Linked DNA regions of Homo sapiens. The protein of the gene in region 2 purifies or fractionates together with the protein of the main gene of each other region. This does not show direct contact. Each region holds a gene or a part of one and is shown on either strand. Other genes may lie near its edges. The genes, in order: WAPL, LRPPRC and LONP1.

Region 1 (7,107 bases), on a different chromosome or scaffold from region 2:
TGAGATGAATAGACACATCAGTTATTCCATTTGTTTATCATATTCTTTATTAGGTAGGTAGGCTATATATTTCTGTTTTCTTACGAATGTGTTAGACTTAAACCTAGCAGCACATCATCACATAACAATTAATAATAACATTTAATACTTACAAAGCACTTTTTTTTTTTTTTTTTTAAAGACAGTCTCGCTTTGTCGCCCAGGCTGGAGTGCAGTGGCGCAATCTCGGCTCACTGCAACCTCCACCTCCCGGGTTCAACTGATTCTCCCGCCTCAGCCTCCTGAGTAGCTGGTACTGCAGTTACTCACCACCATGCCTGGCTAATTTTTGTATTTTTAGTAGAGACGGGGTTTCATCCTGTTGGCCAGGCTGGTCTCAAACTCCTGACCTCAGTCGATCCGCCTGCCTTGGCCTCCCAAAGTGCTGGGATTACAGGCGTGAGCCACCACACCCGACAGCACATATTCTTTCAGGCACTCTTACAGTGTTTTAATTTTTTGAGACAGAGTCTCGCTCTGTCGCCCAGGCTGAAGTGCAATGGCACCATCTCAGATCACTGCAACCTCCGACTCCCGGGTTCTAGCAATTCTCCTCCCTCAGCCTCCCAAGTAGCTGGGACTGCAGGTGCCCACCACCGTGCCCCGCTAATTTTTTGTATTTTTAGTAGAGACGGGGTTTCACCGTGTTAACCAGGATGGTCTCAATCTCCTGACCTCGTGATCCGCCCGCCTCAGCCTCCCAAAGTGCTGGGATTACAGGCGTAAGCCACCGTGCCCGGCCTAGTCAGTGCTTTTTAAAAATAATTTCTCTTTTTGCTTCTTTAATTTCTTTAATTTTATTTTTTGTAGAGACAGGATCTTGCTTTCTTGCCCAGGCTGTTGTGAACTCCTGGCTTCAAGTGATCTGCTTCCTGCCTCGGCCTAGAGGCGTGCTGCAATTACTGGCATGAGCCACTGTGCCTAGCCCAATCAATGCTTTTTAAAAAGAAGTAAAATGCTTGAGCTTTGAGGCACTCATTCTTGCCAAAAGGCTGTTGTTACCAGAGCCTGGGCTCTGAGTATGCTTGAGGTACTAAAGGTAGTTCAAATTAGGGATCCATAACTAGCAGACACACAAGTTACATAGCTGGTCTTTGAAAAGAATGGAAGGAATAGAGAGGTTGGTTTTAAAATTTATGTTCAGTCCACTTTATGTGTTGTGTCTCAGGAAGCCAGATCAAGTCATTGCATGAGTGCATAAATTGTTTCAGATTGCTAATGCATCATCATGTTATGCAAACCTGGCATTTATGAATGATGGGTTTGTGTACACAATCCAAATGAGAATTTTTCCACTTTATTAGAGATAATATATTAAAAGCTAACGATTAGTTCACACTAATGCTTAATGCTAATTATGTTGCTTCAGTGCAGCTAGTAAGGGGATATAGTTAAGTTTTTTAATGTAGATTTTTTGACGGTCTTGAAGTATGATTTTCCACTTGTCTTCTTATTTTTGTTGTACTGAAAATAAGATGTGTTTCATAAGAGAAAATCTCTAATTTGTCCAAACCATGTATTTGAAGTTCAAAACATAATTTAACGTCACTTTTGTAGAGGATAGAGAGGATGAGGTGTTACCTTTCTATTTTGTCTTTGTAATTATGCAGTTTTCTCTTGAAAGTGAGGGTTTTGTTCTTTTACTTGATTTGATTTTGTAGGTTTACTGTCATTTATTCTCAATTCGGAAATTCAGTGTTAAAACTGAAAATCCCCTGGAAGTTTAAGTAAATTGATAGGGCAGCACAATAACCTCAATTGATGTGTGAGGGACTTTACATCTTTGTCCTGCTTAGTGTAACATTTTGCTGCAGAAATCATGTATGTTATTACATGGTACTTTTTTGGATCCCACTGTGTCTTGGAATATGTGGTATATGTATTATATTTACCTTGATAAAATTTGAGAACTCTTGAGTGGTGGCACACAGCTGGCTGCAGTGGTTTGCTTTAAATGAGCGCATTGTCTGTCATAAACTGCTGGATTCCCATTGTTGGAAGATTGTGAGGCATGAATTGGTAGTAGGAAGAATAAAGTTTTGCCAAAGAACCCATTGAACTATTATTATTATCATCATTACTATTTTTTAAATTTTTTTGAGACGGAGTCTTGCTTTGTCACCCAGGTTGGTCTTGAACTCTGGGGCTCACCCAGGTTGGTCTTGAACTCCTGGACTCAAGTGATCCTCCTTCCTCACTCTCCCAAAGTGCTGGGATTACAGGCATGAGCCATCATGCCCAGCCCATGTTGAGTTAAATGTGTTGATTACTTAGTAAGCCTAGCAAGAGGTTTACCTTTTTTTTTTTTTTTTGAGACGGAGTCTCACTCTGTCACCCAGGCTGGAGTGCAGTGGCACAGTCTTAGCTCACTGCAACCTCTGCCTCCGGATTCAGGTGATTCTCCTGCCTCAGCCTCCCAAATAGCTGGGATTACAGATGCCTGCCACCATGCCCAGCTAATTTTTTTTATTTTTAGTAGAGATGGGGTTTCACTATGTTGACCAGGCTCGTCTCAAACTCCTGACCTCAAGTGATCCACCCGCCTTGGCCTCCCAAAGTGCTGGGATTGCAGGTGTGAGCCACCATGTCTGGCCTAGGTTTACTTTCAAGTGCCATCTTTTCTTGGTTAGTCATAGTTGCACAGAGCACTAATTACTGATTTTGTGACCTAGTACTACAGTGATTATATTTGCCATAGACATGAGAATGGGAATTATGGTGGGACTGTTCCCAGATAGTATCCATCCTGCTGTTTCTAGGACATGTTTATGCATATAAATTATTCTTTATGATTTTTAGTTGAGAGTCTTTTATAAGGATGGAAGCAGTTGATCTTTCTCTCATTTCTCTAGTCACCCACAAAAGCTGTATATAATGCCAGACATTGGAATCATCCAGATTCAGAAGAACTGCCTGGGCCACCAGTAGTAAAACCTCAGAGTGTCACAGTAAGTGAACTGTACTTATTTATTTTGTGTTTTTTAATAAGCTATAAATTAAGCAGTTACTCTTTTAATTCATAATTTGTAAATCTTTGACTTTTCTATTTAACAGTTTATTTTGGCTTTCTTTACTGAAACTTATTAGTTTCAGTTTAATTCATTGGAAAACTGAGGATTGTCAGTAAGATAGCAGAAATTCTAGTGCTGCTAGGTTAAACAATGAAAGCCATAAAAAATAAGGCTCTTGTTACTCATGACCCACATTTCATGGAATTTATAGTATTTAGTGTTTAAGAGCAAGATTGTCCATATTTGATGTTTGTATAAGAGCTATGTTGTGTATTACATCCTATATATATTTCTAAGTGGCTTTCAGTGCTTAATTTGCTTTTCAGAGACAAATCTCTTCCTGTATTCTAGTAATACTTTTCAATCCAAAACATTAGGAAAAAGATTCTTAGCAACTTATTTTCTCCAGAATGACTGGTAATATCATACATGATTTCTAGGTTAACAGTAAAGCTTCAGTCATCTGGAGTTATCAAGTAACTTAGTTCTTTATAACAATAAGAAATTTGGGGATAGAAGTCTTTCTAAAGTATAATGTACAGTTCCCTGTCTTCTTAAACTGATTAGACTCCTTTTGATAGTATAAAGAAATCATTTTGTATATTAGTAGTAATATAGCATGCTCCTGTTATAGCTATTTATTTTTACCCTAAACTACTTCACACTCTTGTGCTACTAAAATTCTTTTGACTCTGTCTGGTTTTTCTGTCCTGTCCCTTTCTGCTTATGAAAGCTATTTTTGCATGCAGTTGTGGTTCTTTAGTCTTTCTAATGGTACTAGAGACAAACGACAAATTGTGTGAAATAAAAAGTTTAAAAAAGACCAGAAGAAATCCTTGAGTGGTTCTTCTGTGTGCAGATATACATATGTCTTACCTGTTAGTGCATGGAATTCAAAGTATTTCTAAAGACCTTTGAGAGGCCTCCCTGCTCCCTGCTTTTTAAAAAGCTTTATTTACTTTTTTTTGAAGCTGAATTTGCCAGATAGATGAGACGTTCCTATTTTTATATATTTATTTAGAACAACTAATTTAATACCTTTATTAATAGGTGAGGCTGTCTTCAAAGGAACCAAATCAAAAAGATGATGGAGTTTTTAAGGCTCCTGCACCACCATCCAAAGTGATAAAAACTGTGACAATACCTACTCAGCCCTACCAAGATATAGTTACTGCACTGAAATGCAGACGAGAAGACAAAGAAGTAAGCAGCCATATACAGTGTTTACTGCATGTTGATAGATTTTTGTATGTAACATTTAGCCATTTAATATCTTCAACAAATATCAGTATACTGATACTCAGTTTTGAACCACAAACTTCTTTTGTCCTACCATCATCCTTGTTCTAAAAATATTTTTGTTGCCATCTAATGAACTATTTTATGCACTTATGTAAAGTACAGTGAGCCCATAGATTTAAATATGCTAGTTCCTAGTTAAAAAGGGGTGAACTTTTTTTTTCTTGGCAGTTATATACTGTTGTTCAGCACGTGAAGCACTTCAACGATGTTGTAGAATTTGGTGAAAATCAAGAGTTCACTGATGACATTGAGTACTTGTTAAGTGGCTTAAAGAGCACTCAGCCTCTAAACACACGTTGCCTTAGGTAAGATCTTATTTTTATATTTTACAATTATGTGCATGCTGTATTAAATTTTTTCAACTAGGTGTTGTCCAAAAAGCCAAACATTTTTTATTTTGTTATGATGGGGTAGTATGTATAGCCAGTGATATGTTAAAATGCTATCCATTTCTTTATAAAGAATTTGATTCTGCATGATAAGAGGGAAAGCTGGGTGATGAGAGCCTTTTTAATATAGCATAGGCTTCAGTTTTCAAGAGCTTAAAAAAAAAAAAAAATTACGCTAAAGCATCTTTTTGCCTTGTGTGGTGGCTCATACCTATAATCCCAGCATTTTGGGAAGCCAAGTTGGGAGGATCATGTGTGTCCAAGAGTTCGAGACCACCTTGGGCAACATAGTGAGACCCCATGTCTACAAAAAATAAAAAATTAATGAGTCATGGTGGCATATGCCTGTAGTTCCAGCTACTTGGGAGGCTGAGGTGGCAGGATGGCTTGAGCCCGTGATCATGCTGCTGCACTCCAGCCTGGATGATAGAGTGAGGTGAGGCCCTGTCTCCAAAAACAAGAAAGAAAAAATTACCAGAAAGAAATAAAGTAAATAATTAAAAAAAAATCTTTTAAGTTCTTTTTACCTCTGATGTTCAAGTAATAAGTTAGATTTATTTAAGCATATTGTGATCTGGACGCTTACATTTGTACCCAAATGCTCAAAAAGATGATCTTTTGTATTTCCTAATGGATTGATTGAATACTATAATTTTGATTAAATTTTTCAGTCATTTGGAGTATATCCAATCAAATATAATTAATTAATTGTGATTTTTATCAGAAGTATTAATGAAAGGCAGCTCAGATTTTAAGCTTTTAATGGTGGTAGTAGTAACGTAAGGAATGCACTAAAGACAATTACGTTATTTTTTTAAAATACAGTGTACCTAATCATGCACTAGGCATCAGTATATTTTTAATAATGTGTTTTGCCTATGGTTTTTATATTGTGATCATGTATGGGCAATGCTTTGACCCTTTTACCCCCTTCCTATTTGCTGGTTTTGGTATTACACAAACTCAAAACTAATGTACTAGCTGTTTCCAGCCCCCCTAACCTGCTCTATTTTCTTGTAGTGTTATTAGCTTGGCTACTAAATGTGCCATGCCCAGTTTTCGAATGCACCTGAGAGCACATGGGATGGTAGCAATGGTCTTTAAAACCTTGGATGATTCCCAGCACCATCAGGTATTTTTTAAGTTTCTGAGATTGAGAAGCCTTATGTTGAAAACTACTAGTCTATTTGGCTATCAAAAATATCTTCACTGAATATTCTATAAATATATCCTAATTATAGATTGAGTTCATTTTATTTGCTAAATTTGTAGTGCTTATGGCCAGAAGCTTTTGCTTAATACTTATTTTATCATGAAAACGTGAAAACATTTTTTCTTAATGTGTCATTTTATACTTTTAAAATTGTATTTTGTTATCTTAGCTAATGTAGTATATTGATACAGAATTTTGTAAGCATAATTTTCTCTATAATCAGAAAGCACTGAGAAGAATCTTTTAATATTATTTGATACTAATGAATGGAAAAAAACTGGTTTGGAAATGCAGCCCTAATTTTTTAGAAACGTTTTTGTCCAGTGTTGAATCTGGAACATGGCCTCATTGTGATAAGGAATAATTTCTTCATTTTCCTTGCCTTTGATGCTTTTGCATAATGATAAACATAACAAAAGTTATTAGGTTTAACATTTTCCAAAATTAGAAGAAAGTAACCATCATTGCTAATTATTAGCATTAGTAGTATTTTGAGATGGCCTTACTATATTTTTGTTAAAGAAATTATGTTCTAAATACAGATTAGGTGATAATTAATTTAATACTGCATCTTCTGGGCTGGGCGCGGTGGCTCATGCCTGTAATCCCAGCACTTTGGGAGGCCAAAGTGGGCAGATCATCTCAGGTCAGGAGTTTGAGATCAGCCTGGCCAACATGGTAAAATCCTGACTCTACTAAAAATACAAAAAATTAGCTGGGTGTGGTGGCAGGCACCTGTAATCCCAGCTACTTGGGAGGCTGAGGCAGGAGAATTGCTTGAACCCGGGAGGTGGAGGTTGTAGTGATCTGAGGTTGTGCCACTGCACTCCAGCCTGGGAGACAGAGCGAGACTCTGTCTCAAAAAAAAAAAAAGAAGTTAGTTTGTTGCTGGGCAAGGTGGTGTGCATTCGTAAGTCCTAGCTACTCTGGAGACTAAGGGAGGATCTCTTGAGCTCAGGAGTTCAGATCCATTTTGGGAAACCTAGTGAGACCTCATCTCTTAAAAACAAACAAAAAAGAGAATTCGTTTGCTTTGTTATGCAGTTAACAGTGAACTTAGACATTACAGTGTGATTTTTAAGGGCAGTGGATCCCCCATGGCCTTTACAATGCATCCTAATTTCCAAAAATAATTTGCTGTATAAACATTTAA
Region 2 (7,107 bases):
TATTTTTTCAGACAAAACCTTCATCGATTAAAAAATTCACTCTCTTTTAGCAATGTTATTCGTGTAAAAACTGGCAACTAATTTTTAAACAGCAGCTAAGAATTTTTAGAAAATAAACACAGTATAGTACTTACAAAAGCTGAATATGGAAGGGTTATAGTATAAAAAAGGATATTTTAAAAGGAGGACAGAAACCCTCTATTCTAATCCCAGCCTAATCACACCTAGACGTGGAAGCTAAGGTCAGTCACTGAATGTCTGTGTGGCCCTCAGTTCCTTCATTCACGTAATGTGAGCTTTCAGTACAGCACTTTTAAAATCTAAATTCTGAGATTCTAAGACAAGATGGATTTGAGATAAAGCCCATTTTCTACTATTTCAACTGCTACAACCATAGAAAGAAATTACCTAACTCTTTTATGTTTACTAAGTAGTAAAAATGTAGTAATCAATTCAACTGTGACATGGTTGTGGAAAGCAGATTAACCTGATGAACAAACATTTCAACTGGTACCAAAAAAATTTTCATACTTGTGTAAAGGTGGACAATACTAACATGCCTGAAGAGTTTGATGGAATGATGTAAACTTTCTGTGGTTCCAAAACACTGGGTTATAGGTTACCTTTTGGAGCTTTCAGACTGGAGGATATACAAAGAGTTAATCAAACTAGCATATTGTTTTCACAAAGATTTTTCTAAAAAGGATTTAGAGACTTTTATAGCCAGAAACAATTAGGGAATACTTGTTTCACTATTTCCTTTAAACCAGAAGACGGCTGTACATTTAAAATAAAATTGCAATATGAAAGTCTGCTAAAAGCACTTTTTTTGTTGTTTGTGCATTCTGTTTGTCACCCAATGTCACACTAACAATTCTGCATCTCATTCCAAAGCACATTATACTTCGAGATAAAATGAAAAAGACCATTTTTTGTTTCCCCAAGGGGAAAGTACTTCTGTTAAAAGCATCTTTTTATGAGACTACTCTTTCTGAATTACCAATAATGCAAACCGAAGAATTAGATACTGTACTCTAAAATTTAATATTTGTTCAATTCTTATTCATATCCTATAGACATCCCATGTGTACAAGGGAAAAGTATGATAAATGCTTAAACGTACTTAAGAACCTGAAAGATTGAACATTTTTGTCCTTCAATCAGCAGGCTGTCAGGTCATGAGTACTCATTTCACAATAAAAGTTTTCCTGCCTTTCCTATTATTCTAACTAAGCTCAGTTAAAAAGAAATAGATTGGCCCACAAAGAAAATGACCATACTTTTTGTTTTCATGAACCTAATTGTATATACAACTTTATCTTTATTAAAGGTAGACAATCTGATTTCAAACACTATATATAAAATCAAGAACTAAAGAGTTTTTTTAAGAACTTAAAAAAACTACGTTCATTAAGTTTGAATATCAAGATCAGAGATGAAATAAGAAATGAAATTAATGAAATTCAGATGAAAGAAATCCATCATGTTTTGTTTTTTAAAATGCTTACACATAATACTTCATGATGACTTAAAACAATTCCATTATCTCATAATACTCAGGAATAAGTATGCTTTTCCAAAGAATCCAATTAGATGTGCGTGCAAACTGTCATACTGGCTCTGGGAACCATTACAAATCGGTAAAAGGCAAAATCTAACCTTGAACATTTTTTTCCTTCCGACGTCCAACTAGCAATGGCCAGAAATAGTGAGGTCTGATAGGAAAACCTTCCTCCTTCACAGCCTTCATTAAGGCTTTTGCCAAATCTGAAAGAGATATCATAAAAGATCACAAAGCTACCTCAGCAAAACTTCCTTACTTGGCTTTAACTTTAAGAATGTAGTACCAGTTTTATTGGCGAGTAAAGCACAATGGAGGGTGAACTGCAGAGGAAAGGAGTGCATCTGGACTTCCTTTAACTTCTTACAGTAGTCTGTTAGCTTCTCCACAGGCTGTGGGAAAAAAGTCACCACATTAGCTGGATTGGCAAACACCCCACCGTTTGACCTGCTGCAAATATTCTACCACTTCTGAGATGAGCATTTTAAACCCCGCATCCTCTTTCTACCCAAAAATCTTGCAACACAAGAACATTGTTATGATGTTTACAACTGGTCTAATCTTATAAATGTTCCTATACTTTAAAGAATCTTATTTCACTGCCAATTACATTGTCTACAAAGTAAAAGTGGACAGAATACCGTATTCATAGTCACACAGTGTTGTAAAAAGAAACTGCCAAAGACACTTGGGCCATCTTCCTTTGATACGGGGCATGCTAGTAAAATTTGCAACGCTACATCTTCCAATTTTTCAGTGACTAAAAGTAAAATGAGGTTCATTGCATCTGGGAAGAAAACAAAGACATCTTTTGTTAATAAACTGAACAATATTTTTACACTGCAACCAATGTTCCAATACTGAAGACAAAATAAGAATTGCAAACATCAAAAGCATATAACTGCCTAAATAACAATAAAACACCTGCAAATCAAATCATCCCCATGTGTTCATTAACTCATGTTTTTGGGCTTATTTAACTGACTTTAAGAGTTCTATGTTCAACTCCCACAATGCCCATTGTTAGAAAATGTCCTTTCCATCATGTAAGAATAGCAATTCAGATTTTTATAAAAATCATGTAAATAGATTTTTTTAAAACTACCTGGAATATATCTTCTTTCACATGTAACTTTTTCCAAAATTTCTGAGACATACTGAGGATACCCAGCTTTACTGAAGCTAAAAATAATTTGCAGTAAATCACGGTCCATAAGGTGAAGCTCGGACTTCTCCACCTTCTCCAGAGTCTATAGAGAGTTCCAGAAATTAGAAGACAAAGTTAGAGTGTTTTTATTTAAGTATTAAAGCTAAATAAAATATCCAGATTCAAAAAACTAGGGAAAAATACCACCTAAAGGTTTACGACTTCTTTTAAAAAACAGGAAATACTCTACTTCAACAGTAACTGTTACATACCAGCACCGAGATACTAAACTATAATAATTCTCCATAAATACTACTTTCTGCAAGGAAACATCTTTGAAAACAGGTATAAACTTCACTTTCCTGCCTCATGTAAAACATAACACAAATTTTTACAAATGATTTTAAAGTATGTTTATTTAGACATAAGTCATACCTGCTTAACATGGTCAATGTCGCCCTTCTCAGCATATGCATTCAATAATGCGAGGTATGTGTCTGGACCAGGCTCAATTCCGGCATCTCTCATCACTGTGAGAATGTTTTCTGCATTCTCCATATCACTACAAGTTAATTCAAAAAACAGATTATTATGCTTTTGCCAAATTTAATATAGTTATTCAAACTAAAACATATGCTTATTAAAATAAAAAATGCTAAGTACCATTTGGAATTATGATGTCAGAAAAGAACTAATGTATATTAAACTGGATATATGTTTCTGAAATAATAAAGATCATAAACATCTGATCCCCCATTAAAAAATAATAATAATTACATAGACATTAAATAACATACCCTCTTAATATTATGTAGGTTATGACTCAGACTTAACTTTCGAGGTAAGAATAACATTTAGTAAATTACTCTTCAAAAATAAAAATATTTTCCAGAGCAGTTACTTCAGATCAGATCAAGCCCAGTTTCTTTTTTCTTTTTTTTTTTTGAGATGGAGTCTTGCTCTGTCTCCCAGGCTGGAGTGCAATGGTGTAATCTCGGCTCACTGCAACCTCTGCCTCCCGGGTTCAAGCAACGCTCCTGCCTCAGACTCCCAAGTAGCTGGGATTACAGGCACCTGCCATCATGCCCGGCTAAATTTTTATATTTTTGTAGAGACCGGGTTTCACCATGTTGGCCAAGCTGGTCTTGAACTCCTGACCTCAGGTGATCTGCCCACCTCAGCCTCCCAAAGTGCTGGGATTACAGGCATGAGCCACCACGCCCGGCTTCAAGCCCAATTTCTAAAAATTCAAATAAAAGAAAGATTTGTGGAACAAATGTAAAAGCTCATTATAAAAATATTAGTATGCTCTACCTCATATACTACAGATTTTTTTTTGAAGGGATAGACAAATGTATTTTAAGAACTGTCTACAATAATTTTCTCTAATTTAAACCCCACTTAACAAACAAAAAAGGAGTAAAATGACCACTTTAGCATCTCAGCCATCTATCACTTAAGAACCAAAACCTTAGGTTGAACATTACCCAGCTCTGGCATGCCCTGTCACAAGGGCACTGAATACTGCCTCTGTAACTGGGAGATCCTTAGTTTTCATAAATCCAAGAATCTTGCTGCAAAGGAAAAACGAAGATACTCATTGAAAGTATTTATAAGAACACTCTTTACAACATGTACAGAATTAGGCCTTGAGTTACTTTTGTTTTTAAAATATAATAGTAATATACATTTGTTTTAGAAACCACAAAGAAAGAACTAATCCCTTTGATCCCCTTCCCACAAAACCCCACTCTCTAATGTATCAACAGTCTTGAAGTACTATCGATACAAATACTAGATTTTTAAAAATCTGATTATCTGATTTGTCTTACACTACTAATTACCCTTTTAAAAGCATAGTTTCATAAGATTCTTTTAGATAAAAATGAAATTATGTATTCCAATTTATCCCTTATTTTCCAAACCTTCCATTCATAAGTAGTAATAAATTTTACATAAGCAGAGAAATGGTGCAACTGATTTTCTACACTACTTCCAGTTTTATAAATGAATACAGCTTAAATGGTTAAGAACATTTCCCTTAGGAAATATTTAAAAAAAAAAAAAAAAAAGCAAAGTCAGCTTTATAGCTCAACAACTTTATACCTCTCTCCAGTAAATCAAATTTTTAATTAAAATAGCAACTTTTACTTATCTTTTCTCTCTTACACGATAATTTTATATTTTATGTAAGTCAGATTACCAGATTTTCTAGATTAAAACAGTTCTGAAACAATTTCCTCCATTAGGAAGAAGCTTTAAAACAAAGAGTGAACAGACATTAGATTTACAAAATGTACAAATTTGTTCGCTTAAACATGTTCATACAGATCCATACCTGGCACCTTCAATATCTCCTACATTACAATAAGAAGCAATCAATCTCTGGTATGTCACCTGTCAATGAAATGGGCCAGTTAATTTTAAATATACTTTTTTTTCTGAGTAAAGAAAAAAAATGGTGGATGTGAAAATATATTCACAATAGCAACTACTTACTCGATTTGGTTGAATGTTTGCTTCCTCCATTTTTGCCAGGAAATCAGTTGGTGAGAATTTATATTCATTTTGAAGATAGACTTTAAGTAAAGCATTATAGTGACTCACATCATACACAGCACCTACAAATGAAATTTAAAATGAATTTTTAGAAAAGCATTGAAAATCCTATGCTTTAAAGTGGACCTAAATTTAACAAACAAAAAGAGTAAAACTATCACTTTAGCATTTCACCCATCCATCTTGGCGCTCAGACCTATCTACACAGATACTCTGTCACACAGAGCAAGCTAAGCATGTAAGACAGTAATTACTGAGTTACTGTATAGTTACAAGTAACTGCCTATTCGGATATTAAAAGGCCTCTTACTTATGAAGCACAAAATTATCTTCCTGTTAGAAAACGCTGACAATATCCCTATATTTAAAAGTGACTGTAAGATTTTTCTATATAAAGCAGTCCTCACATTACAGACACACTGTGAAGAATGGATTGTAACTTCAGTTCTTTCACACAGTAGGACTGTGCTGGCAATTCTGTCACTCAAAGCCTTCATTTTAAGGATGCATTCCATTTTCAGCTGATGAACATGATCTATGGTATGCTCTTGTTAATTATCTGTATTCTAATGACCTTTGTTTTCTTTGTATCCCTACTGTTTAGGGCCACATCAAATAAGGTTACCACACAGCCTTACTCTACTGAGTCATGACATCATGGTCTTTATATCAATTTTGTGGTAACATGTCTCACTACATTTTCATGCATTAAATTTCACATCTTTATTCAACTGCCTGTGACCATACAGGCCTATGGTTAGTATCTGGGGGTGAGAGTATGTGATTTTAGGCAGCAGAGAGCTGTTCCATTAAATTAATACACATTTTTATCTTAACAGATATGTTTCTTTCATACTATGTTTCAGGCACTATGCTAAGTGTTCCACATATAGTGGCTCACTCAAACTTCACAACAACTTTGAGACACTATTATCAGCCCCATCTTACAGATAGCTCAGATCTGTCAACAGCTCATTCTGTAATTTTGGACAAGTTACTTAAGCTAAAAGATCTCTTGTATCTTTATAAATCTGTAAACAAGAGTCAAACTGGCAAACTACAAGGTTTCTGGCAATATTAATTCAACAAGTATGTATCAAATGCCATTATACACAAAGCATCATGCTACTGTCAAACAGGAAAATAAAGAAGCCATGGATTCCATCCTTATAAAGCAGACACTTATACAGGAGAGACCTATCTGTAAAGAATGTTAATATAATAACACATTGTTAATCTTTATATGGAGGAATTAATGTTATTACTGCTGTGTAATGCTTTTTTCTATTTTAGAATGTAACCTTTTCTGCATATATTTCTCCCAGTTCAATGACTTACTGACATACAGAAATTTCTAATTTTTAGAGATTCAATATTTTAGCTTTACTTTTCTGCTCCTTTTATACTTATAAAATCCTTTTCCATTCTGAAAGTCAACATTTATCTATATAGTTTTTAACTTAAAAAAAAATCAACTTATCAAAATGTATTCTAGATGTATTCAAAACTGTGAAGGAAGAATCTGTCTTTATCCTGTAGTTTTTTTCACATAGGTCCTACTCACTTTTTGAAGGATAGTCCTAAATATTTTATTTATCTGTAGCTATACTTTCTTGGATTCTTTTCTCTATTTTCTTTTATAACTAGAAGAGGTATGGATTCTTAAACATTTAGTGAGTCCAGCTAATTACTGTGAGCTGATTTTCTGGGATTTTGCAGATTAAACAATCACATCATCTAAAAATAATAACTTCTTGTATTGTTTCACATCTTATTTCATTGCATTATACATGATTGTTGTCGGTTTTAGATTTTTAACACATTAAAGAAGCATCTTTCT
Region 3 (7,687 bases), on a different chromosome or scaffold from region 2:
ACCCTAAAGTATCTGTTCTTTTTTGGGGGGGACGGAGTCTCACTCTGTCGCCCAGGCTGGAGTGCAGTGGCAAGATCTTGGCTCACTGCAACCTCCGCCTCCCAGATTCAAGTGTTTCTCCTGCCTCAGCCGCCAGAGTAGCTGGGATTACAGGCGCGCGCCACAACACCTAGCTAATTTTTTATATTTTTAGTAGAGATAGGGTTTCACCACATTGGCCAGGCTGGTCCTGAACTCCTGACCTCGTGATCTGCCTGCCTTGGCCTCCCGAAGTGTTGGGATTACAGGCGTGAGCCACTGCGCCCAGCCAAGTATCTGTTCCTGATGCTTTTCGGGTTATAGGAGGCCCTAGAAAATTGGATGAGGCTGGGCGTGGTGGCTTATGTCTTTAATCCCAGCACTTTGGGAGGCCGAGGCAGGTGGATCACTTGAGGTCAGCAGTTCAAGACCAACCTGGCCAACTTGGTGAAACCCCATCTCTACTGAAAATACGAAAATTAGAGCCAGGTGCGGTGGCTCACACCTGTAATCCCAGCGCTTTGGGAGGTCAAGGTGGGTGGATCAGCTGAGGTCAGGAGTTCGAGATCAGCCTGGCCAACATCGTGAAATCTCGTCTCTACTAAAAATACAAAAAAGTTAGGCACGGTGGCTCACACCTGTAATCCCAGCACTTTGGGAGGCCAAAGCGGGTGGATCACCTGAGGTTGGGACTTCGAGACCAGCCTGAGCAACACGGAGAAACCCTGTCTCTACTAAATATACAAAATTAGCCTGTAATATACAAAATTAGCGTGTGGTGGCGCATGCCTGTAATCCCAGCTACTCAGGAGGCTGAGGCAGGAGAATCGCTTGAACCCGGGAGGCGGAGGTTATGGTGAGCTGAGATTGCACCATTGCACTCCAGCCCGGGCAACAAGAGTGAAACTCCATCTCAAAAAAAAAAACAAAAACAAAACAAAACAGGCTAGGTGTGGTGGCTCACGCCTGTTAATCCCAGCACTTTAGGAGGCCGAGGCGGGTGGATCACGAAGTCAGGAGATCGAGACCATCCTGGCTAACACGGTGAAACCCCGTCTCTACTAAAAACACAAAAAAATTAGCCGGGCGTGGTTGCGGCACCTGTAGTCCCAGCTACTCGGGAGGCTGAGGCAGGAGAATGGTGTGAACCCAGAAGGCAGAGCTTGCAGTGAGCCGAGATGGCGCCATTGCACTCCAGCCTGGGCAACAGAGCGAGACTCCGTCTCAAAAAAAAAAAAAAAAAAAAAAAATTAGCTGGGCAGGGTGGCGGGCGCCTGTTATCCCAGATACTCAGGAGGCTGAGGGCTGAGGCACTAGAATCGCTTGAACCTTGGAGGCAGAGGTTGCAGTGAGTTGAGCTCTTGCCACACTGCACTCCAGCCTGGGCGACAGAGCAAGCCTCCGTCAAAAAATAAAATTTGTATGAAACTCCTCTCCCAGAAACAGACATAAGTACACACAAAATGTAGAAATGATTTCTGAAAATTTCTTTTTTCTTTTTCTTTTTCTTTTTTTTTTTTTTGAGACAGAATCTCGCTCCGTCGCCCAGGCTGGAGTGCAGTGGCGCGATCTCAGCTCACTGCAAGCTCCACCTCCCGGGTTCACGCCATTCTCCTGCCTCAGCCTCCCGAGTAGCTGGGACTACAAGCGCCCGCCACCACACCGACTAATTTTTTGTATTTTTGGTAGAGACGAGGTTTCACCGTGTTAGCCAGGATGGTCTCGATCTCCTGACCTCGTGATCCGCCCGCCTCCACCTCCCAAAGTGCTGGGATTACAGGCGTGAGCCCCCGCGCCCGGCCAAGAATTTCTAAAGGCTCCTTCACAGACCCCAGCTGAGGAAAATTATGAAGTCCTGCAACAAGGTATTCGGGGCTCCTTAAGGGAGTGTGTGGTGACTGGAAGGATGGTATAGTTTACAGCAGAGGTGCTCAATCTTGAATATGCATCAGAATCACCGGGGTTGCGGGGGGGGGGGTCTTGATAAACCACCGTTTGCTGGGTCCCACTGCCAAGTCCCCGACTCAGTAGGTCCAGGGAACTGCATTTCTAACCAATTATAATAAATTCCAGGTGATCTTGATGCTGCTGGTCCAGGGACCATTCTTTGAGAGCCTGTGTGGGGAAATGAGAGAACTGGATATAACCCACATTTTCAGAACTCGAGACAAATCCTATTAGTAAATTTCACTGGAAAATGTTTCTCCCACTTACTAGGTATGTGTTGTTAGGCAAGTGTGTCTTTAACTTTCCTAAGTATGCTTTCGTATCTATAAAATAAGGGTGTTGGCCGGGCGCGGTGGCACACGCCTGTAAGCCCAGCACGTTGGGAGGCCGAGGCAAGTGAATCACGAGGTCAGGAGTTCGAGACCAACCTGGGCAACATGGTGGAACCCTGTCTCTACTAAAAACACAAAAAATTAGCTGCACGTGGTGGCAGGCGCCCATAATCCCAACTACTCTGGAGGCTGAGGCAGGAGAATTGCTTGAACTTGGGAGGCGGAGGTTGCAGTGAGCCGAGACCGTGACATTGTACTCCAGCCTGGGCGACGAGAACAAGACTCCATCTCAAAAAAATAAAATAAGGGTATGGCTGGGCATGGGTGGCTCATGCCTGTAATCCCAACACTTTGGGAGGCTGAGGCAGGAGGATCACTGGAGCCTAGGAGTTCAAGACCAGCCTGGGCAAAACAGTGAGACCCCATCTCTTTTTTTTTTTTTTTCCTTTGAGACAGAGTCTCCCTTTGTCACCCAGGCTGGAGTGCGATCTCAGCTCACTGCAACCTCCACCTCCTGAATTCAAGCGATTTTTCTGCCTCAGCCTCCCAAGTAGCTGGGATTACAGGCACCTGCCACCAAGCCTGGCTAATTTTTGTATTTTTAGTAGAGACGAGGTTTCATCATGTTGGCCAGGCTGGTCTGGAACTCTTGACCTCAAGTGAGTGATCTGCCCACCTCTACCTCTCAAAGTGTTGGGATTACAGGCGTGAGCCACTGCACCCAGCCAGTGAGACCCCATCTGTACAAAAAATAATAATAAATAAAATAAAATAAGGTTAAGGAATCATTATGAATCTTCCTGTAAACATCAAATGAGGCCATACACCCTAAGAATACAGCTCACAGGTCCCTACTGAATGTGACAGTTTAGTCCAGATGGGAGTTCCCTGAGGGCAGGAACGGAGTTTCAGCAACTGGTCCCCATGGCAGGTTGGAGTATGCACTAACCTAACATTTACTGAAATTTCAAAATGTGCTGGGTAAGGCTGGGCGCGGTGGCTCACGCCTGCAATCCCAGCACTTTGGGAGGCGGGGGTTGCAGTGAGCAGAGATCGCGCCACTGCACTCCACCCTGGGAAACAGAGCAAAAACTCCGGCTCCAAAAAGAAAAAGAAGTGGGAGGGCTAGGCCCGGCGTGGTGGCTCACGCCTGTAATCCCAGCACTTTGGGAGGCCGAGGCAGGCGGGTCACGAGGTCAGGAGATCGGGACCATCCTGGCTAATACGGTGAAACCCCCGTCTTTACTAAAAATACAAAAAAAAATTAGCCGGGCGTGGTGGCAGGCGCCTGTAGTCCCAGCTACTCAGGAGGCTGAGGCAGGAGAATGGCGTGAATCCGGGAGGCGGAGCTTGCAGTGAGCCGAGATCGCGCCACTGCACTGCAGCCTGGGCGACAGAGCGAGACTCCGTCTCAAAAAAAAAAAAAAAAAGAGGTAGGAGAGCTTAATATCGGGCTGGGAGGATGGGGTGGAGTAGGGTGAGCGAGGCGTCAAGTTCGATTCCTAAAAAGAGTAAAAGGGGAGCCTCAGTGAGGTTGGGGAGCAGGCCTCGGCTCCAAGATGAACCAGCACCCTCCCGACCCCCGGCAGCACCCCAGCCCCAGGAGTCCTGGCAGCCCCACCGACAGAGCTGAGCTGTGACCAGCGGTCGGAGCCACATGGTCACAGCCGCCACCAGCATCAACATCAGCATCGACTTGGGCTTCCGCCGCCACCACTGCCCCTCAACCGCCACGGGGAGTCGCTGCACAATCCGAGTACGTGCAGGCTGAAGCCCTGCGCATGCGCATCAATGAGTCCCGGGAGCGGGCCTCCGCGCACTGCAGCCCGGCGCTCCGCCTGAATCTTGAGCATGCGCAGACGAATCCCGGGAAGCCCGAATCCGCGCACCCCAAAGTGCGCTCAGAGCCTGAGTATGCGCACCCGGCCACCCGTGGCCAGTCTAGAGTCTGAGCATGCGCATGTTGTCCGCGCGCCTAAGCATGTGCACAGGCTGCTCATGAGTTCCTAAACGTTGCGTTTGCAACACTACCAGTGTTTTGTACGGGCGCTGGCGCCTGCTCACAGCCTTCCACGTGACCGGAAAAGGCCTTCAGCGCATAAAGTGGGAGACCGGAAGAGGCGGAGACGATCCGATGCTCGAACTCCGCCCCCTCTTCTCCGCGTAGGCCCAGCTCCCTGAAGCGGCTGTTTCGAGCCACGCGCCCATCGGGTACCGAGGCACGCGCCGGGCGTCACGTGCGTTTCGCGGCGAGCGGAAATGACGCGAGTTGTGTGAGCCGCCAGTATGGCCGGGCTATGGCGGCGAGCACTGGCTACGTGCGACTGTGGGGAGCGGCGCGGTGCTGGGTGCTGCGGCGGCCGATGCTGGCCGCCGCCGGGGGGCGGGTTCCCACTGCAGCAGGAGCGTGGTTGCTCCGAGGCCAGCGGACCTGCGACGCCTCTCCTCCTTGGGCACTGTGGGGCCGAGGCCCGGCAATTGGGGGCCAATGGCGGGGGTTTTGGGAAGCGAGCAGCCGCGGCGGAGGCGCATTCTCGGGGGGCGAGGACGCCTCCGAGGGCGGCGCGGAGGAAGGAGCCGGCGGCGCGGGGGGCAGCGCGGGCGCCGGGGAAGGCCCGGTCATAACGGCGCTCACGCCCATGACGATCCCCGATGTGTTTCCGCACCTGCCGCTCATCGCCATCACCCGCAACCCGGTGTTCCCGCGCTTTATCAAGATTATCGAGGTAATGGGAGTCCCCGCCTCGGCCTCAGGTTTCCCACCTGTGCAAGCAGCGGGCTGAACCGTGGGATCACTTGAGCGCCCTTGTGTTTCGCAACTTTTTCAGACATGAAGTTTCTCGAAGGGTGCAGTTCGAATCCTTGTCTGCTCACCACTAGCTTGGGAACCTTGAGCCAAAGTCCTCTCCCTTTCGGATTTCTTAGGATCCGTTAGATGAGAGGAGTTGAACCCGATGAGCCTAGGATTATCCACTTTAGAACGCCGGTCATAGAAATCCGGGGCCGGGAGGGACCTGAGTAGTGTTACGGCGCTGTTAGTTTTCTCCTTACTTGGCACGAGTTTTGTAATACCTCCTCGCCCCAGGCGCTCTGCCGTCTGGTTACGAGCCTCACTGGGATCAGAATTCATTCCTTTCTTAGACAAATACTTCTTGATTGCTTATTATTTGCCAGAGAGTGTTCTAGGTTCTGGGGATATGGCAGTGAACAAAACAGACAAAAATTTCTGCCTTTGAAGCTGGGCATGGTGGCGCGCGCTGTACTCCCAGCTACTCTGGCGGCTGAGGTGGAAGGATTGTTGGAAACCTGGAGTCCAGCCTGGTCAACATGGCGAGACCCTGTCTCTTAAAAAATAAATCTGCCTTGGAGCTTACATTTTGGCAGGATGAGACAGGCAATAAAGATGTTTAGTAACGATATTGTATTAGAAGGCAATAATTACGAGAAATAGTAGAGCATGGATGGGACAGGAGGCTTAGGAGGGTGGGAAGAGGTGGGTTATTCAGTGTGTTCTTGACCTCCTACCACGTAGCAAGTTCTGAGAATACTGTAGAGAACAAGTCATTCCGGTGGTAGAAATTAGATCATTTCAGACTAAGAGCCTTGGGGGTGGGGAGGGAGCAGGATGATGTAATAGAGAGAAAGCAGTGAGTGTAAGGAACTTGAGCTTTTACAGTAGGAAGGCCCCAAAAGCCTTCTCCCCCAGCTCCCCTTCCCTTAAAAAAAAAAACTACTGATGTGGAAAGTGGCATCTATGGGAAGGTTATCTCCTAACTGGCAGAGCAAGGTCACGCAGTGAGTCAGCCTCTGCGCTCACTCTCCAGACTCTTCTAAACAAATCTCAAGGATCTGTTGGGAAGGGAAAGGCCATTTCAGAGGGGCAGCAGCCAGTAGAGAGGGGACAGAGGGAGCTTCTCCAACGCTGCTCCAAGATTTTTTTTTTTTTTTTTTTGAGACCAAGTTGCACTCTGTCATCTAGGCTAAAGTGCAGTGGCGCGATTTCAGCTCACTGCAACCTCTGCCTCCCGGGTTCAAGTGATTCTCCTGCCTCAGCCCCCTGAGTAGCTGGGATTACAGGCGCCCGCCACCGTGGCTGGCTAATTTTTCTATTTTTAGAAGAGACAGGGTTTCACCATGTTGCCCACGCTCGTCTCGAACTCCTGACCTCAAGTGATTCACCCGCCTCAGCCTCCCAAAGTGCTGGGATTGCAGGTGCGAGTCACTGCGCCCGGCCCCAAGGCCTTTCCTTGATGTTGAGTACTGGTTACTGATGCAGGCCCCCAGAGCAAGACCTTGTGGGGTCCTATCCTAGCTCCATAACCTTCAGCAAGTTATTCCTTTGGCTTCCCTCTTCTCATCTGTGACCTGGACATATTAGTGTCTTATTAGAGTTGTTGTGGGATTTAAATGAGGCCATGTGGGCTGGGCACGGTGTCTCACATGTTTAATCCCAGCACTTTGGGAGGCTGAGGCAGGAGCATAATTTGAAACCAGTATGGTCAACATAGACCCTGTCTCTACAAAAAAAAAAAAAAAAAGAAAGAAAGAAAAGCCGGGCACAGTGGCATGCACCTGTCTTCCCAGCTACTTGGAAGGCTGAGGCAGGAGGATCACTTGAAACTGGGAGATCAAGGCTGCAGTGAGCCATGGTGTCACCACTGCACTGCAGCCTGGGCAACAGAATGAGGCCCTGCCTCAGCAATAACGTGATGCTGTTTCCTCTTTGGTGTACTTCTGACATTTCAGGACTCTGCCCCGGAGGCCTTTTTCCCATCCTTGACTTCACCCCTGGCAGTTCTCTTTACCCTCCCAGGTTTCTGGGCCCAGGATGGTGTTCATCAGGCCTGGTCCCCTCCGTTCTGCAGAGCGACAGATGCCCCTTGCTCCCGGTGCCTGAGCAGAGAGATGATTCTTCTAAGAGAGTTCAGACGGCCCACGTGGAGCTAGCCAGGAGAGTTAAATGAGTGGCTGCAGATAGTATTTGGGAGACTGGCAGGTGGTTCTCATTGTATTTCTGGTTGATGATGCATTGTAAATCATAAAAATGGATCCTGCCAAGGCCAGGAGGCAGATGCCAAGGATGCAGCTATCAGCTGTTGGCAGAGGGGAAATTGGGAGGCAACTTCTTTGGGACCCAATAAATGTTTCTGAAATTGTTAGCAAAGCTTGATTTACTCTTCAGTTTGTACTTGACTTGTCTGGCCAACTTGCTCTAGAAGCTTCTCTCCTATTAGCAACTTTTGAGTAAGGAACAATGGCTCTTAATTTTTGGTGGGTATTAAAGAATAAATCATAAGTGTTAGAAGTATTAGTTTCTTTTAAAAACTAACTTCGTGGGCTGGGCGCGGTGGCTCACGCCTGCAATCCCAGCACTTTGGGAGGCTGAGGTG

Evidence for each region.
Region 1: the proteins of LRPPRC (region 2) and WAPL purify together in Homo sapiens (affinity purification with mass spectrometry; 2 studies listed by BioGRID, with this or other methods). This does not show direct contact.
Region 3: the proteins of LRPPRC (region 2) and LONP1 purify together in Homo sapiens (affinity purification with mass spectrometry; 2 studies listed by BioGRID and IntAct, with this or other methods). This does not show direct contact.

What each region holds. Positions count from the first base shown.
Region 1 is NC_000010.11:86,469,758-86,476,864, reverse strand, and holds part of WAPL (wings apart-like protein homolog), read left to right. Parts: intron 1-2,891; coding exon 2,892-2,987; intron 2,988-4,100; coding exon 4,101-4,253; intron 4,254-4,520; coding exon 4,521-4,657; intron 4,658-5,761; coding exon 5,762-5,873; intron 5,874-7,107. UniProt on the Homo sapiens protein: Regulator of sister chromatid cohesion in mitosis which negatively regulates cohesin association with chromatin. Involved in both sister chromatid cohesion during interphase and sister-chromatid resolution during early stages of mitosis.
Region 2 is NC_000002.12:43,971,948-43,979,054, forward strand, and holds part of LRPPRC (leucine-rich PPR motif-containing protein, mitochondrial precursor), read right to left. Parts: intron 5,330-7,107; coding exon 5,208-5,329; intron 5,106-5,207; coding exon 5,047-5,105; intron 4,283-5,046; coding exon 4,196-4,282; intron 3,271-4,195; coding exon 3,144-3,270; intron 2,812-3,143; coding exon 2,667-2,811; intron 2,349-2,666; coding exon 2,203-2,348; intron 1,954-2,202; coding exon 1,848-1,953; intron 1,768-1,847; coding exon 1,660-1,767; intron 1-1,659. UniProt on the Homo sapiens protein: May play a role in RNA metabolism in both nuclei and mitochondria. In the nucleus binds to HNRPA1-associated poly(A) mRNAs and is part of nmRNP complexes at late stages of mRNA maturation which are possibly associated with nuclear mRNA export.
Region 3 is NC_000019.10:5,717,040-5,724,726, reverse strand, and holds the start of LONP1 (lon protease homolog, mitochondrial isoform 1 precursor), read left to right. Parts: upstream 1-4,580; 5' UTR 4,581-4,594; coding exon 4,595-5,023; intron 5,024-7,687. Other genes in the region: CATSPERD (cation channel sperm-associated auxiliary subunit delta), read right to left, coding at 3,919-3,989. UniProt on the Homo sapiens protein: ATP-dependent serine protease that mediates the selective degradation of misfolded, unassembled or oxidatively damaged polypeptides as well as certain short-lived regulatory proteins in the mitochondrial matrix.